Linked DNA regions of Homo sapiens. The protein of the gene in region 3 interacts with the protein of the main gene of each other region in a biochemical or structural test. Each region holds a gene or a part of one and is shown on either strand. Other genes may lie near its edges.

The links. The genes of interacting proteins can lie anywhere in the genome.
Region 1: the proteins of MPP7 (region 3) and SLC45A4 interact in a test that uses a peptide from one of them, tested with the Homo sapiens proteins (one large-scale study listed by IntAct).
Region 2: the proteins of MPP7 (region 3) and GDA interact in a test that uses a peptide from one of them, tested with the Homo sapiens proteins (one large-scale study listed by IntAct).
Region 4: the proteins of MPP7 (region 3) and RSBN1 interact in a test that uses a peptide from one of them, tested with the Homo sapiens proteins (one large-scale study listed by IntAct).

The regions. Positions count from the first base shown.
Region 1 is NC_000008.11:141,207,289-141,211,675, forward strand, and holds part of SLC45A4 (solute carrier family 45 member 4), read right to left. Parts: coding exon 4,284-4,387; coding exon of another isoform or gene 4,154-4,283; 3' UTR 1-4,153. UniProt on the Homo sapiens protein: Proton-associated sucrose transporter. May be able to transport also glucose and fructose.
Region 2 is NC_000009.12:72,155,053-72,159,439, forward strand, and holds part of GDA (guanine deaminase), read left to right. Parts: intron 1-3,767; exon of another isoform or gene 3,768-3,961; intron 3,962-4,387. UniProt on the Homo sapiens protein: Catalyzes the hydrolytic deamination of guanine, producing xanthine and ammonia.
Region 3 is NC_000010.11:28,292,336-28,297,610, reverse strand, and holds part of MPP7 (MAGUK p55 subfamily member 7), read left to right. Parts: intron 1-5,275. UniProt on the Homo sapiens protein: Acts as an important adapter that promotes epithelial cell polarity and tight junction formation via its interaction with DLG1. Involved in the assembly of protein complexes at sites of cell-cell contact.
Region 4 is NC_000001.11:113,802,477-113,806,863, forward strand, and holds part of RSBN1 (lysine-specific demethylase 9), read right to left. Parts: intron 1-4,387. UniProt on the Homo sapiens protein: Histone demethylase that specifically demethylates dimethylated 'Lys-20' of histone H4 (H4K20me2), thereby modulating chromosome architecture.

The DNA of each region.
Region 1 (4,387 bases), on a different chromosome or scaffold from region 3:
AGGGGCGCGGACAGCAGCGCATGCCACAAACATTCACCTGGCAAAGAAACAGAGCAGAACCTAAGGGCTCTGTGTACACACAGACACAAACATGAGGCCACTGTTACCCAACTAATAGAAGAGAGTCATGAGCGACACGACACTTCCTTACGACCTCTCTCTCCTAAAACGTAACATTATGTGTTTAACACACGCTTACCACCACTGCTAACTCAGCAAGCGCGATTACAGTGCTCCAACTTAATAAGTTGATAAAAAGCTGTCCCGTGGCCAGTTCACAATGGAACTAAATAGTTTCGTTCCGAGATGCCTGGGGAGTTTCTCTGGCAACGAGGCATTTCCAACAAACGGGTCATTCTGTCACCAGGGGATGGTCTCAGTCCACGGCACAGAGCGACGTGCCCCTGGCAGCACTGTGGAGGGCAAGGGATGCCGCTAGGAGGGGTGCTCAGTCCTCCTGGAGGACCCAAGGAGGGGCTGGCCAAGGGGCCACCTTGAGCTCTGGCCGGAGGGTGATGGCTGGCTTTGCATGAGGAGGTGACAAGAACTTTGGGCTGGGCCCCCAACATGCTGTGTGCACGGGCCTTGTTCAACTCGGAACTGAACTGACACCTCTCCCAGGTGGTGAAGGGCAGAACCCCCCCAGGAGCTCTCGGAAGCAGGGGTCCCTCACGACAGGCCTGTGGCACCAGGCTTGGAGGCAGGGAGCTGGTGTCTCTCAGAAGCGGCGCGTGCTGGTGGGAGGCGGAGGGACAAACGAGGCTGACTCCGCAGCAGCAGTCCCTCACACGCTGTGTGGTGGCTAAAGCTGGACCAAAGTTAAGAAGCGAAACAGCGTGGGAAAAGGTGTCCATCTTTTCTGAAGCCGGTTAATGTCTAGTGTGGACAGCAATATTTGGTGTTTTAACAAACCTGGTCTCTAATAGGGGCCGCCATCGCTGGTGGCTGCACAAACCATTAGCCATATAAGGGAACAGTTGGTATCTTTAAGAGTATTTTTCAAACATGTCACCCGAACATCACCGCCCCAGCAGTGGGAGAGCCGAGGGTGGCCTGCAGCTCCCCCTTCCAGCCCTCTTGTTGCTGCAGGGACGGCTTCCTGTTCAGCTCTGGGGTTCTAGGTGGTCACAGACCAAGTCCTCCACACCTGGGGCATTCAAGAAACACTCCTGATGGCTGTTGGAAGCCACTAACCATCTGAGGAGGGCTCAGTGGCCCTGCCTCCCCCCCGGGGACAGGACTGGACAGAGTGCTTCTCCCAGGGGCCTGAGGCTTTCAAGGGCAGGTGTCCAAGAGGCAGCACACAGCACTGACGTGTTCAGTGGCAGGTTGGAGGATTCCAGCTAAGGCCCCTGCCTGAGAGTGAGAAAAACAACACTCCAAAGCTAGCTCTTCAGCCACCAGGGAACGTCATGATGCCAGTCTGCCGACAGACCCAGGAAAGGGGACACAGGCAGGCCGGCCCAGCTGAGAGCTCACGGCCTCTGCCCCTTCCCGCCAGCTCGCATTCCTGCACCTGGAAACTTCTGCCATGTGTTAAGGGGAAGCTCGTTAAAAGAGTCTTTACTTAGCTGACTTGTATAGGGAACAAAACCACCACAAATGAGACCAACATTATCCTAGTTTGGTAACTGGTCTGCGCACATTACACAAGACTCGACCAACCGACACACCCTGCCTGACACTCCACTCAGTGTGCAGAGGCACCCAGGCCACCAGCCTGCACAGCCCACACCCCAAGGGTGCCACGAGCCCAACTCCAGCTGCGTCCTCAGCACTGGATGGCTGGCCAGCTTCCCCAGGGGGCACCCGCACGGCCTCCTCGTCCCTCTCGGGCAAGGCTATCAGCCAGAGCACCTCCCCTTTGACACTGACCGGCGTCCCCAGCCCCGCCTTGTTACTGCATCCGTCTGAGGTACAAGGTTAGAAGCCACAGACACCCGAGCTGCAGCCTGACCCACACAAGCTGCGGGCGCAATGGCGCTTTGCAGACAAGACAGCCTGCCCGTCTGCCCTTCTTCTCGGCTTCCCTTAAGACACAAGGTGACGACACGGACGGTTTCAAGTGAGTGCAATCTGGAAATAATCTCAGTGCAGGGGAGGGGTTGAGGCCAAAGATGTCGTGACCTGGTCCCCGCTGTGGCCAGGCCGGGCCCACACGCACCGCCAGAGCCCCGGTCACCCACACCTGCCTCCCAGGAAGGCAGCTCCAGAAACCGACTCTACTGACCCTGGACCCCAGCCCCTGCGGTCCCCTCATTTGGGCTCTGCACACTGACCTGCACACTAAGAAGGGCTTTGCTTGCAAACACCTGAAGTGCTGACAGCTTGACGAGTCTACAAAGTGTGCAGCCACCGACTCCTGTCACCGAGGAGCACACAACAGTCACGCCTGTCCCTGGCTGGCACTGGCTTCCGGCACGTTCATACCCTGACAGTGACTGTGGCAAGGCCATGTGGAGGGCACTGAATGGCCTTTGTTGTCCTTACTTCAGATTAGTCGAGGCTGGGATCTCAAGGGTTAACACACTATTCAGAGGGGGGTTGCGAAGCCCCTCTTCCTCCTAAAAATCAAGTCGCAGCCAGGCCCTGAGACTTCTGCACTCCCAGCTGGCGAGGAATCGGCTTTGGTGAGCCCTGGATCCGGCCCCTGGGCCTTCAGATGAGGGTGGGAAGCCTCAGGCAAGGGGTGGCCCCCAGATGAACCCACATTTGGTGTGGTTTGGGTCGGATCTTGATTCGGGTCAGGCCACTGCCACCCCACATCCGCTGCTTTCTTGCCTCCAACTGTTTTATAGTCGTCAGGACGAGAAGCCGGAGAAACCAGCTAAGACGGGAGCTGCGCCTCGAGATCCTGACAAGTACAGCCAGGTCTCAGAGAGGGGATCTACAGTCTTAAAGCCGCTAGAGGATCAAGTTGCATAGAGTGAGCTGCCACGGACGCCCGGCCGAGGTGAGGAAGCCAGGGGTGCCGTCCCCCAGAGAAGAAGGGCCACAGTGCCCAGCCCACGGGGCTCCCGCTGGCCGGAGGGCTCGCAGCAAAGCTGGCAGCACTTTCAGTAGTCGGACTTGCCCTGTCCAAGCACGAGATTCACAAGGCCATTCTCAAGTTTCCACACATCCAGAAAATGTTCTTGAAGTCTTGAAAGTCAGCCCTCTGCGATCCTGGGACACCGTGGCCTGGCAGACACACCGTGCGTGAGCAGGTACCCAACTGCCACCCGGACACAAACACACAATCTACAAAGTGCCACCAGCGGCAGGAGACACGGCAAGACCAGAGGCCCATCAAGTACATTAAACAGTCGTTCCTTTAAATACACAGAAAATTCAAGTAATTTATTTAAAAACTGCTTTAGTTTCATCTTGAAATATATATACGTGTATATATATATTTGCTCTAGAATGATCATATTGCAGCATGATTCTCATGCATTTCAAAGTACTTTATTTAAAAAACAACTTGAGGCAGCAAAAGTATTAATTACAATTGTCTGACTTTATCTGTGTGATGTGCGGGGCCTCCCTGTCTCCTGATCTCAGTAAGCCTACACCGACCGTTTCAAATAGGCTTAGTTCTAAAGAGACTGTGGTTTGGAAAACATTTCCAAATAGCTGCAGTACTTGCCCGAGTTTTGCTTATTCGTTGAAACCAGAACGACTGTGCGGAGCCCTCCGGTGACACGGGCCTTAGCTGTCCCAGACGTCTGCGTCCCTTTGCACCTGTCCCGATTCCAGCGTCGAGCAGGTGAGCAGGCGAGGAAGGCATGGAGTTCCGACAGGTTCCAGCACGCATGTCCCCTTCGCAAGCGGGGGAGGCCCTCGCACATCCACACACCCGAGGTAGCCTTGCGGCGGGACTTGGGAGGCAGGGCCCGCTGGGAGCTCTGCTCTCAGGAATCCCCAGCAAATGGTTTAGAGACGAATCAAAGTGCAGTGAAAGTCAACGTTTCCTTCCCCCTGACGTTGGGAGCGGTCTGGAGGGGCAACCTGGCCTCCTAGGAGAGTCCTTCAGACGGGACGAGCGGGGTCACATGGCTGGGCGCAGACACACTCACACGCGCACGCAGGAGCTCGTCTGGAGCTCACGCTCCGCCCCCAGGTGGTGCCCAGCCCATCCCTGGGCAGGGTGTCTGGGAGCCACCCCTGCAAATCACTGTCTTCTGCCCAGGCCCCCCGGACCAGCCTCCTCCCAGCTTTGGTGTGCGGTCGCTGCCCAAGGACAGGGCTGCCCTGGGCACAATGTGTCCAACTCGCTGAGGAAAAGAAGATACGTCATTCTTCTAAGAGAACCACATTGTGGAAAAGAAAATTTTTTTTCTAAAATAATCATAAAGAAAAATACTCTCCAACAGCTGCGGCACCAGCCAATGTGACGAGATCTGAC
Region 2 (4,387 bases), on a different chromosome or scaffold from region 3:
AACTTGCGATGTGAACAATGAGAAGTTAAGTAGGTATATTAGTCAATTTTCACATTGGTGACAAAAACAACCTGAGACTGGGAAGAAAAAGAGGTTTAATTGGACTTACAGTTCCACATGACTGGGGAGCCTCAGAATCATGGCAGGAGGTGAAAGACACTTCTTACATGGCGGCAGCAAGAGAGAATGAGGAAGATGAAAAAGCGGAAACTCCTGATAAACCCATCAGATCTCGTGAGACTTATTCACTACCATGAGAACAGTATGGGGGAAACTGCCCCCATGATTCAAGTTATCGCCCACTGGGTTCCTCCCACAACATGTGGGAATTAGGGGAGTACAATTCAAGATGAGATTTGGATGGAGGCACATCCAAACCATACCAATAGGTAAGGTGGACAGCATTGGAAGTAAAGAAGAGCCTTCTAGGTTGAGAGAACTGCCTGTGACTGCCTGTGCAAAGGTCCTGGGGTAGGAAGGAATGAAACAGTCAAGGTAGTCAGAGTCCAAAGGTTGAGGAGAAGGCTAACACAGGATAAGGCAGGACAGGTAGGCAGGGCTATGTTATGGAGGGCATCGGGGATGGTGGGATTGTGTCATGATTATATTTTGTGGTTATAAAGGTCTAACTTCAGGATAAATGCATTGAAGAGAAGTTGAGTGCAGGCAAGGAGGTCAGATAGGAGCCTGTTGCAGTATTTAGGTAAAATGGAATGTGGTTTAGATGAGAGAGGCAGTGTAGTTATCAACTGAGATATGAACTCCTAAGAGTACCTCTATCACTTATTACCTATGTGAATTTGATCAAGTTCCTTACCATTTGTATCTCCAAATTTCTTTATGCATAAAATAATTACTATGGTCTACCTAATAGGGTTGTTGAAAGGATAAAATGGATTAGTAAGTGTAAAATATATAGAATAATGCCTGGCATGTAGTACATGTCCATTAGACTTCAGCGGTTATTGTCAGTAATGCAGATGGAGAGGTGGATAGAATCAGTAGCTATTTAGATCAAGTTGACTGGATTTGATGATAGCTTACATATGTAAGGTTGGAAGGTAAGTGCATCAAGAGTGATCGCAAAATGTATGTAAATGTGTGTAAATAGTACAGTGGGGCACAAGTTGACCAGTGATAGGAAAAGCTTCTTGAAGGAAGTAGTAGCTGAATTGGACCTTTTAGGACTGGAACATGCAAAAGAGGATTATATAGCCCTGGTGAAAAGAGTGACCCAATGTTCTTCAGTTCTGAAGACTGCTGGGAGGAGGAAGAGTTCTTTCTCACCTGAGGCTACTTTACCAGAAGTTCTCTCAGTCTAAATCACAAATCCTAGTGATTGTGTATCATCCTTTCCTCCACTTCCTGCCAAGCTCAGCAACTCAAAATATGCTGTTGGTCCTGAGAAAGGAAACTGGGCTAATCCCTTCCTTCTGAGGCTGCTGAATAGGAGCTTGGCTTTCATCAGAAAGATGCTTTCACTCCCAATTATTACAAGATCATCTTGCAAATTCCCATTTTCTAGAAGGCTGATTGCTTGTTCAGAATGCTCATGGCAAACACTGTTGGTTACCCACTCAGCAGTCATGACCTCTTTTTCCTTATTAACACCTGAATTTGATCAGTCCATGGTAGACTCAGCCTGTGGATACATCATGGTGTAAGCCAGTCATGGTAATCCTATCTCCATTTATCAGATACTTATTCTTCCAGCTTCCTGGTAGCTGAGGGTGACTAGTGATAATATTCTGACATACAGGAAGTTTGCTCAGAAGCTTCTAGGATGTGGGAAGAGAAGCCCTGCCTTTTTTGGATACTCTCATATGAAGAAAAGATACTTGGAACTGCTGCTGCCACCATGTGAGACTGTGAGGAAAAGGTTAAGGGGATTTCAGAGACACCATCCCATTTTCTAACATCACTGAGCAGTTGAACTACCCCTACCTGGAACTGTCTACTATCAGACTTCTAGACTTCCTTTTTTTTTTTTTTTTTTTTTTTTTTGAGATGGAGTTTCACTCTTGTTGCCTAGGCTGGGGTGCAGTGGCGCGATCTTAGCTCACTGCAACATCCGCCTCCTGGGTTCAAGCGATTCTCCTGCCTCAGCCTCCCGAGGAGGTGGGATTACGGGCACTCACCACCATGGCCAGCTAATTTTTTGTATTTTTAGTAGAGATGGGGTTTCGCCATGTTGGGCAGGCTGGTCTTGAACTCCTGACCTCAGGTGATCCACCCACCTTGGCCTCCCAAAGTGTTGGGATTACAGGCGTGAGCCACGGTAGCCAGCCCAGACTTCTTTTGTGAGATATGAAATGTCTTTATTGTCTAAATCTCTGTTAGTTGGGTACTGTTCATTGCAGCCCAATGCACCCTCATTACTACACTGCTTTTCAATGAACAATATTTTACACTTTACAAGAATAACTACCTTCTCCTTCTTCTCCTTACTGGCCTTTCCAGGCACCCATATCAATAGTCAAGCCCAGCCAATTTTCCTCTGGGATTTCTGTGTGCATATTCACTTCCATTGCCCCCATCTACCCTTTAGTGTCTCTGAGCTAAAATATAACAGGAGACCCTTAACTGTTTTCTCTCATTCTAGTATTTCCCCCACATTACTGAAAACTCTTTTCTTGGACCATGGGTAGTATCATGTATCTACTCTTCTATAACCATCTATGGCTCACTATTGCCTCTAAGTTTCAAATGTCCTGGAAGATGTTCTAGGCATGACATTATTTGGCCCCAACCTGTTCTCTAATTCTTTCTGTTGCTTCATTTATCTGTCTGGCAAGTGGGAATAGGATTACCATGACTGATTTACACCATATTGTATCCATGAGCCAAGGGATGTCTATCCATGCAAATTTCTCCCTGTTTTCCAGCACATCATGTCCTTTTATGCCTCCACATTGTTGGCACCAATTTCTTTGCCTGGAATAGTCCTCCTTTTTATATCCCCATTTCCATTTTACTTCTATCAAAATGAAATCTTGCTCTTCCTTTAAGGCCCAGCTCTGATCTTCTCTTTTTCACAAAGGCTTTCACAAAGGCTTTATTCCCAAGTTGAAATAAATTGCCCCTTCCTCTGTTCTTCCATAAAATTTTTCATATATTTCAAATCAGTATTTTACAGGTAGTTAAGAACATGGTTTCTAGAGTCAGATTATGTGAATTCAAATCAAAACTCTGCTACTTACTAGGACAAATTTTCTGACATAGCTGAACCTCAGCATCCTCATTTAAAAATGTGGATTAAGGCTGGGTACAGTGGCCCGCACCTGTAATCCTAGCACTTTGGGAGGCCGAGGTGGGCTCATCACGAGGTCAGGAGATCGAGACCATCCTGGCTAACATGGTGAAACTCCATCTCTACTAAAAATACAAAAAATTAGCTGGGTGTGGTGGCAGGCGCCTATAGTCCCAGCTACTCGGGAGGCTGAGGCAGGAGAATCCCTTGAACCCGGGAGGCAGAGCTTGCAGTGAGCTGAGATCATGCCACTGCACTCCAGCCTGGGCAACAAGAGCGAAACTCCGTCTCCAAAAAAAAAAAAAATGTGGATTAATAGCACCTTGATAGAGTTGTGAGGCAAGTGAGATAGTGTGTTGTTATTATTTTTCTTTCTCTGAAGTAGTTATTCCAATTTGCCTTTGATTATACTTAGCTTTATAGAATGTTCTCACTCACTGAAATGATTTAAAGTTTTTGGAAAAAGAGAGATGAACTGGAGAAAAGGTAACACTTACTAAGTCATACTGTATTTCAGACAGTCTGCCAAATCCCTTACAAATCAACAACCTTGAGACAAGGTAAGGACACCATCATCATCATCATCATCATCATCATCATCATCTCTACTTTACAAATGAGGAAACGGAGGCTCGGAGAGTTACTTGGCTGCAGTCACAGCAAATAAGTGGCAAAGGCAAGACTCAGAGCCATGCCTGTCTGATGTCCAAGGTCCGTGCTCTCCAGGAGTCTCTGCTGTCTTCTGTCATGGAGAGGGCCAAAACTCTATTGTCCTAAGGCCCCTTCAACATTTCATGTTGTTTTAGCACAAAGTAGGTGGTCAGTAAAGTGTGTTGAATGTGATGTGTAATACAAAAACGAGGCAGGCAGATCACAAGCTCAGGAGTTCAAGACCAGCCTGGCCAACATGGTGAAACCCCGTCTCTACTAAAAATACAAAAATTAGCCAGGCATGATGGCAGGTGCCTGTAATCCCAGCTACTCAGGAGGCTGAGGGGGAAGAACTGCTTGAAACCAGGAGGTGGAGGTTGCAGTGAGCCGAAATTGTGCCACTGCACTCCAGCCTGGGTGACAGAGTGAGACTCCGTCTCAAAAAAAGAAAAAGAGAAAAAAAAATGAGTGATAGAACAAACCTTT
Region 3 (5,275 bases):
TCTCCTGTCTCAGCCTCCTGAGTAGCTGGGATTACAGGTGCACACTGCCACAGCTGGCTAATTTTTTATATTTTAGTAGAGATGGGGTTTCACTCTGTTGACCAGGCTGGTCTTGAACTCCTGAGCTCACGCAGTCCACCCACCTCAGCCTCCCAAAGTGTTAGGATTACAGGCGTGAGCCACAGCGCCCGGCCTTATTGTTTTCTTATTTTAAGAAATTGCCACAGCCATCCATCTTTCAGCAGCCAGCACCTTGTTCAGTCAGCAGCCATCAACATCAAGGCAAAATCCTCCACCAGCAAAAAGATTATGACTCCCTGAAGGCTCGGATGATCACTAGCATTTTAAAAAAATTATAAAGCATTTTAAAATTAAGAGCTAATGCTATTGCCAACATAATAGACTACAGTATACTGTAAATATAACTTCTATATGCACTTGGAAAGCAGAAACATTTCTGTTACCTTATTGCAGTGTTAGTTTTACTAAGGTGGTCTGGAATGGAACATGTGATATCTTCAAGGTATGCCTACGATTTCAGAAATAACCTCTCCTATTGAACCCTCTGATTCTTCCTGTGTTCAGAAACCCAGACCAAAGTGTAGATTTATTGGTCTTTATTTATGAGTAGTTGAATTTTTTTAATGTCTTGTGTTTTGTTTAAATTTTATGTAAACTGCGGCTTAGCTCTTTCAGCATAGTCTTATGCTTTGCTTTCTTAGATTACTGAGTCTTTAAAAGAACTGGTAAAGTGCATATGTGTGGAAAGATTATTTGCTACCTACTATGAACAGATACTTAAGTAAAAAAACAAAAACAAAAAAACCCAAGATGTTTTTTCCAGGCATATAAATGTTTTTTTCTTGAAGAGGCATTTAGTCTTTCTATTTACTAGAACATTATCAGCTTGCTTTACTTATGAAAGAGAGGAGACCATTCTTTTCTCTGTGAATTTAGGAGCTATTTGTCAGGCTTGTTTATTACTGATTGGGTTGCTTGTTACTGATTGTTAGAGAAGGGAGATGAAAATACATAGCAGTTGCGATATCCATTTTGGGTATAGAACTGGCAATGTTAGTGGAGATTAAAGACTAGCTGGTACGACTGCATTTTGCAAGATATTTTGAAGACAACTTTGGACTTTGAAAATGCAGGATAGGAATCTAAGTGAGAAAGTCTTTCAGTGGTTGGGGTGTGTGTGTGTTCACTTCAGTTGCACTGAACTGTGGGTGGGGAGGAGAGCAATAGTAAATTGTTTCTTACCAGAACACTGCCAGTTCTTAGGGGATTTGGTGGAGATTTGGGAGAGAGAAAATAAATAGGATTCAGCCCTTCTAGGAAGGTCATTCTTGGCAGTGCCTTCAGCCCTTAGGAGAGCGTGGGCATGGAAAAGGTGGGTGGTTGTAAGTAGCCAGGCAGATTAAAAGGCTGCTTCCTAGAGTTTTCTTTACCTTTGATGACCTTAATCAGGTCATTAAGCATTTTAAGACAGGTTTATAGCTCTCCTGTGGTCCAAGCTTGGACTAAGTACTCCTTAATCTTCAATTTTATGTTTTAAATTTTTGGAATAAGTAGAAACCTGAAATTTATAAAATTAATGACTTGAGTATGCGAGTGAATAGCTTCAGAGAGTTATTTGGCTTATGGAAGATTTCAGATTATGGTAGGTGCTTGAATATACTTATTTCTCATACTCTTTCTTCCATCCCTTTAACAACAAAAAAAGGCCTTATTAGAAATAGGCAAACTTGAATACACATAGAGCTGTACTGCTCAAATTGAGTACTTGAGTTGGGGAGAAAAGTCTCCCGGTCTAGATATAGCTTTGAAAAGAGAAGGATCAGGTAGGATGCCGTACACGGCAGGTGTGTGCAGGGACAGGGATAACGTTAACCCCTTTTGCTGTGAATATTGTCAGAGGGTCTGATGTGTAATTAGGCATTCCTTAGCTTCACTCCTGATAAAAACACACTCTTGGACAGTTTCTCTGTATGTGCACTTAAAGCAGTTTGAATCTTGTTAATCAAATATTTCTCGGGGTTGTAACTTCTTTTTTTGGCATTGGGAAGACTGTTGAAGTCATGTTGTAAAAATTTGGAGTTGAGCCTGGGATCAAAATTTGGAGTTATGGCCCAAGATTTATCAAGCTTCTGCTGATATTCAAAATATTGTTTTTTTCTCTTCCTATTATGGCTTCTGATTACTTCTGAAGAGTGAGTTCAGACCTCTGTGCTCTAACGCTCATCAGAGTACCCTTTTTGTACATAGTATAATCAGGATAGAGATTAGGCATTTTGTCAAGTTTGGGAGAAAGAAGTTGAGCAGTGAGGAAATGAACTAACACTGTTTTCGTTTCTTCATAGTCATTTTAAATAGGATACAAATTTTATATTTTAGAAGTTTCAAAATGGTAGTAATTTCACCTTTCACATTATGCTTAGTATGAAAAATTTCTACCAGTGGTTCTCAAACTTTAGCATACCTTGGGATCACACGGAGGGCTTGTGAAACCTTAGGCAGCTGCCTTCCAGCCCCAGAATTTCTGATCAGTCGGTCTGGGAGGGGAGGTCCTGGCGATTTGCATTTCTAATAAGTTCTAAGGCCATGTGCTACAGCCACTGCAGGGGCCAGCCACTCTAGGGGGAAACGTAAGTGTAGTGGTTAACACTTTGAAAGACCTGGGTTTGAATCTCTGCTCTGCTGCTTTCTAGTACTTTGACTTTAGGCAAGTTTCTTAACCTCTGTTGTTCCGTCTCTAAAGTGGAAATAATATAGTATTTTGTTGTGAATGTAAGTGGGCTCCAATGTGTAGAAGCTCAGGGAACAGGGCCTTGCAGATTGCAAGCATGCAATAAATGTTTTCTTTTATCCATAAAAACAGTACGTATATAAAATAAATAGGATCCTGCATCTTATACAATTGAAGCAAAGACAGAAAATTTAATACTTAACCTCATTTCCTGGCACTGTGCTGGGGAAAAAATATGATTACTCAATTACTTTTTAAGGAGTGAAGGAAAAGTTTGTGGATCCTAGTAATTTTCCAGAAACATTTTTTAGAGGCATAGCACATTCATATCGATGCTGCCTCCTCCCTCTTCCCCTTCAAAAAGTTTGCATTCTTTAATCACCGTATGTTGGACTCTCACAATAACCCTTATAGTTTACATTTTATATAACAGGTATTTTGAAGGTTGCTTCTGGGAGCTGAATGACAGGAAGTACCTGAAAGTCATCTTTAGAACACACTGTCGCCTGTACTATGACAACTTTGTATTTGATGACCTTGAACGCAGTTCTTCTCGAGACGGAGTCTTGCTCTGTCCCCCAGGCTGGAGTGCAGTGGTGTGATCTCAGCTCACTGCAGGTTCCACCTCCCGGCTTCACGCCATTCTCCTGCCTCAGCCTCCAGTTTAAAACATATTTAAACTGGACTACAGGCACCCGGCTAATTTTTTTGTATTTTTAGTAGAGACAGGGTTTCACTGTGTTAGCCAGGATTGTCTGGATCTCCTGATCTCATGATCCGCCCGCCTCGGCCTCCCAAAGTGCTGGTATTACAGGCGTGAGCCACCACGCCCAGCCCTTGAACGCAATTCTTTGGGATCTCATCTCTCGGCTTGCTGAATGCCTGGTTCATTTTCTTTCTGCAGACCTGCGGGATCTCACCTCTGGCTATCCTTTCATTAGTGAAACCCTCTTTCCATCACTTTCTGTCACTATCACTGTCTTACTTGTTAGCTGTTAACACTCTCTTATCATTATCTTATTTGTTTCCTTTTTATTGTTTCCTTCACTAGGACATAAACCCTATGAGGGTAAGGGCTTGATCTTTTGCTACTCGGTCGCTAGGATGGGATGCAGTTCCTGGTATGTAGAGACTGAATACCTGCTGGTTGGGTGAAGGGACCTGTGACGCGGAGCTGCCCCGCTCCGCTCCCTCCCCAGCTCAGGGGCTCGGACTGGAGTTAGCACTCACTTCATGGCACACTGTCATGATTGGTCCGTGTAGAGTCTCCCACCTTATTTTATTGTATCTTTCCCCTTCATCACCTATCCCCATTCATGTTCTTCCTTGCCCCCAGGGGACCCTCTCTCTGGCATATGCATAATTCCCTTAAGTACGACCAGATTGTTATCTCATTGACACTTTCACCAGCTGTTGCTCCCTGCATTCTTGCTGGCATGTGGCATTTTCTGACCTTATAATTTTTTCCAATCTGATGCAACAGATGGAGCAATCCAGCACAAAGTGATATGTTATTGTTCTTATTTGCAGCTATCTGATTACTAATGCAGTGGAATATCCTATCGTATACTGTGTGTGTTTTTCCTCGGTTGAGTTCGCCATTTATATATCCTTTGCCTCTTTTTCTGTTAGCTTTTCATATCTGTTTCCCATTTTTCTGCCCTAATTTATAGCAGTTTTCTTCTTTTTTCAGTCTCTCGTTGGATTTTAAATGGTATACGCATCTTTTGTTTTTCACCTGTCAGATTTTTTCTTTGAAATCTTTCATTAAACGGAATCTTTAATTTTGTTATGATCCAACCTTTTTTTTTTTTTTTTAACCTTCTGGGTCTTGTGTAGGAAATATTTCTCCATTCCTAGTTAACAAAGTTATGTTTCTGTATTTTCTTCTATGGCAAACGAATTTTCCCAAATCTCATTTACTAAATAACCTAGTGGTTTGTGATGCTACCTGTATCATATGTCAAGATCCACACACTCGTATATATGCACACAGAGACACAGACACACACATTCTCTCTCTCTCACCTTTTTAGGCTCCCTGCTCTGTTCTGATCAATTTGTCTGTTTCTGTTCTAATTTCACAGTGGATTTTGCTTTTATTTTTATTGCTACAACTTGTTTATATATTTTGATATCTAGAAGAATGACTCCCTCCTGTGTTATTTTAAAAACATATTTAAACTGGTAGTTTTCAACCATGGCTTTATATTAGAATTTGCTAGGTAGCTTTTAAAAAAATATGTCCCATTGACCACAGATGAACTGAATTATAATCTCTAGAGAGTGGAGTCTAGCAATTGTATTTTTTAAAATCTCCTCTGGTGACACTGATCTATATCCCGAGTGGAAACCACTTATCAGTGGTATTAATGTTTTATTCAATGGAGGTCAGATTTTTTTTTTTTTTCCGTAATGATCTTGTCTTCTTTGTTACAGTAAGAGACCCTAGTTCAGCTTCTGTTTCTACTGTGAATGCCATTTTTTCTTCTGTTGTATTTTCTATTGTTTATTTCCCCTGGTGTA
Region 4 (4,387 bases), on a different chromosome or scaffold from region 3:
TTCTATATAAATACCTGACTAAAAAGGAAAAACAAAAAACTACTCATTTTGAAAGCCAAACATTTGTGAATCATTGTATGTTTTTAACACTGCCTTACTTTACCCACCATCTCTCTATATTATGGTGTTTTAAGAGCGCTGTCTAGGTTTAAATCCCTGTTCTATAACTTTCTAGTATACTTTCTAGAAGTATACTTTCTAGAACTTTTTTTTCCCTAAGCCTTTACTTTTTTTTTTTTAGAGCAGTTTCAGGTTCCTAGAACTATAACCACACCTGGCTCCCACAAATGCATAGTCTGTCTCCCTGATTATCATCACCCCCAGCCAGAGTGGAATACTTGTTACAACTGATAAGTCTACATTGATGCATCATTATTCGCCTGCCCGCAGTCCATGGTTTACATTCAGGTTCACTCTTGTTGTACATTCTGAGGGTTTGGATAAATGTATGACATGTATCCACCATTAATTAAGTTGCATAAAGAGTAGTTTCACTGTCCTATAAAATGCTCTGTGCTCTGCCTATTCATGCAACCCTCTCTAAAACCCCTAGCAACCACTGATCTTTTAACTTTCTTGATAGTTTTGCCTTTTCCAGAGTGTCATATAATTGGAATCATAAAATGTGCAGCCTTTTCAGGATGGCTTCTTCCACTTGGTAATATGCATTTAAGGTTCCTCCATGTCTTTTTATGGCTTGATAGCTCATTTCTTTTTAGCACTGAATAATATTCTACTGTCTGGATGTACCACAGTTTATCCATTTACCTACTGAAGGACATTTTGATTGCTTCCAAGTTTTGGTAACTATGAATAAACCTATTATGAACACCTATCTACAGGTTTTTGTGTGGACACAAATTTTCAGCTCCTCGGGGTAAATATCAAAGAGTATGACTGCTGGATCGTATAGTATGTTTAGTTTTGTTAAGAAACTGCCAAACTGTCTTCCAAAGTGGCTGTATCATTTTGTATTCCCAACAATAATGAATGAGATAGCATATCTTTTTGCAAGTTAATTCTTTGCACTGCTTCTCATTGGTAAAACCGGAGGAAAGAACAGTATCTCATTATAAAATTAGTGTGCAGAGTAAATGAAAAACGCATGTGAAGTACTTATAATAGTCCTAGAACATAATAAATACTCAATACATCATAACTACTATTATTGCCAAAAACAGTTGAATTCTAGAGGCAGTAGAGTGTACTATTTAAGATAAGAACAGGTGCTGTACTGTTAGATAGACCTAAGTCAATGTCCCAGCTCTATTGTTTACTAAGGTCTCTGGGTAAGCTCATAAATCTCTTTAAATCTAAATTTTCTCATCTTAAAATGTTATAATAGGCCAGGTACAGTGCCTCATGCCTGTAATCCCAGCACTTTGGGAGACTGAGGCAGGAAGACTGCTAGAGTCCAGGAATTCAAGACCAGCCTGAGCAACACAGCAGGACCCCATTTTTACAAAAAAAAAAAAAAAAAAAAAGTTAGCTGGGCTTGGCGGTGCATGCCTGTAGTCCTAGCTGCAGGAGTGAGCTAGGCTTAGCTACAGGCTGAGGTGGGAGGATCGCTTGAGCCCAGGAGTTCGAGGTTACAGTGAGCTATAATCACTTCACTACACTCCAGCCTGGGCAACCCCGTCTCAGAAAAAAAAAAAAGTTATTAATTCTAGAGTCTATCTCACAGAGTTATTTTAAGAATTAAATGAGACAATGACTATAAGGCCCTCATCACAATATGTGACACACAATAAGTCTCTTATCATCTTGATTATCAAGAGAAACACATAAGAAAGATCTCTGAAAGAGGAAAGAAAACGTATTTGCCAAATGTCTAATAGGGACCATATATGTTATTTTATTTTAATCCTCAAACCAATGAAGTACGGAGAAAGAAACAGCCTGAAACAAGATATGTAATTTATATTAGGTCACAAAGCTAGTACACAACAGCCAAGATTCAAACTTCTCACCTATCTGACTCCAAAACAAATTCTTCTAACATACTGCACCCTACACTCTCTTCCTTTCCGCCTCCACTATCAGACATCTCCCTGCAACACTCCCATTAGATGATCAACTAAGATTATCTGGTTACAATTAATGGACCTGAGGTAGCTTGGAATAAAGGGAGTATTACTTCAACAAATATCTTACTTAGTGCCATTTCAAAAGTTTTCGTGCCCTTAAAGGTGTTTTTGCCTCTCTCAGGGTGAGCAGGGAAAAATATTAGTCCCTACAGTTGTTGTTCTGATAAATAAGATTGTTTATTTCAATTCCCTTATAATCCCAATAATTCTCCATTGCTAACATCAAAAAGAAGTGTTTCTGGACTTAAAATCCCTGCTTTTTGACATGAGAGAAAATTTCCATTAAACATCTGGCTCAGGAACACTTACACTCGGTGATAGCAGTTAGGCAACTGGTCAAGAGTAAAAAAAAAAAAAAAAATGAGATAAGAAAGATGACTCACAAGAGCATACATATGAGCAATCCGGTCATGTAATGACATTGGAGAAGACAGCCTATGGGGGCTGTCCTTCCTTTCTTTCCTTTTTAACAACATATTAAAATCATGAATTTACTAAGAATAATTAAAAAGAAGCATTACTTCTTTTCATGGATTTTTAAGGAAGTATGTTTGTCCTATTTTTTTTTTTGAAACGGAGTCTGACTCTGTCGACCAGGCTGGAATGCAAGTGGCGCAATCTCAGCTCAGTGCAACCTCCGCCTTCCAGGTTCAAGTGATTCTCCTGCCTCAGCCTCCCAAGTAGCCCAGCTAATTTTTTGTATTTTTCGTAGAGACAGGGTTTCACCATGTTGACTAGGCTGGTGTCAAACTCCCGACCTCGTGATTTGCCCACCTTGGTCTGGGAATACAGGCATGAGCCACCGCGCCCGGCCTGTCCTATGTTTTTATGAGCAATAAGAGGGAGAGAAAAAAATTAAGATTTCAAAACACATAGGTAACCTCCAGTTTAGTTACACTCAAGCTTATTCCCTATAAGAAATAAAAACAGCATTTAAATATCTCTGTTAAATAATCAACCCCAGTGTGCATAGCAGAAAGAGAGGTCAACTGGGCCATGAGGGAAAAAAATTGAGTTCTGTATTCAGCTCTATCACCAACTAAAAAATTTTAAGCATTTCACTTCATCTCTCTGAAAATCACTTCTTTCTGTTTTAAAGATGAACAAGTTTACCCTAGCATTTACAGATTAAATTTTTGTTTCAACTGTTTATGAACAACTCCAAATGTCTGAGATTGTAATAATTTGTAATTAGTCTCCACATGAATTCAGATTAAATACTGTTGAACTGCTGTGCAGGAAGGAACATGTCTCTTAAGTGAACTCAAGGGTGGCAAACTTCTCTAAAGAGCCGAACAGCAGGCTTTGCAGGTCTTATGGTCTCTGTCTCAATTACTGTATTCTGCTACTGTAGTGCAAAAACTACCATAGACAATATATATGAATGAACAGAGCTATATTCCAATAAAGCTTTATTTCTGGACACAGTTTAAATTTCGTATGATTTCCATGCGCTACAAGGTCGTTCCAACTATTTTAAATTGTAAAAACCATTGTTAGGCCAGGCACAGTGGCTCATGCCTGTAATCCCAGCACTTGTGGGAGGCACATCACCTGAGGTCAGGAGTTTGAGACCAGTCTGGCCAACATGGTGAAACCCCATCTCTACTAAAAATACAAAATTAGCTGGGTGTGGTGGTGGGCGCCTGTAATCCCAGCTACTCAGGAGGCTGAGGCATAAGATTCCCATGAACCCAGGAGGTGGAGGTTGCACTGAGCTGAGATCACACCACTGCACTCCAGCCTGGCACAGAGCGAGACTCTGTCTCAAAAAAAAAAAAAAAATCATTGTTACATTACAGGTTGTACTGATTTTTGAAAAAAGTGCAAAAGCAATTCAATGGAAGATTAATCTTTTCAACAAAAGGTGCTAGAGCAACTGGATATCCTTAGGCAAGAAGAAAAAAAATGGCGACCTAAACCTCACACCTGTACAAAATTAACTCAAATGGATGACAGATTAAAATACAAAAGTTAAAATTATAAAACTTTTAGAAGAAAACAAAGGAGAAAATCTTTGGGATCTAGGACTTGGTATGTTAGATATGATGCCAAAAACATGATCCATTAAAGAAAAAAAAAAACTTAGTAAATTGGATATCAACAAAATTTAAAATTTTTGCTCTGTGAAGTATCCCACTGAGAAGGTAGAAAGGACCAGGCACAGTGGCTCCTGTCTGTAATCCCAACACTTTGGTAGGCCAAGGCGGGAGGATCACTTAAGCCCAGGAGTTTGAGACCAGCCTGGACAACACAGAGAGACCCTGCCTCTATCAAAAAAAAAAAAAAAAAAAAAAACA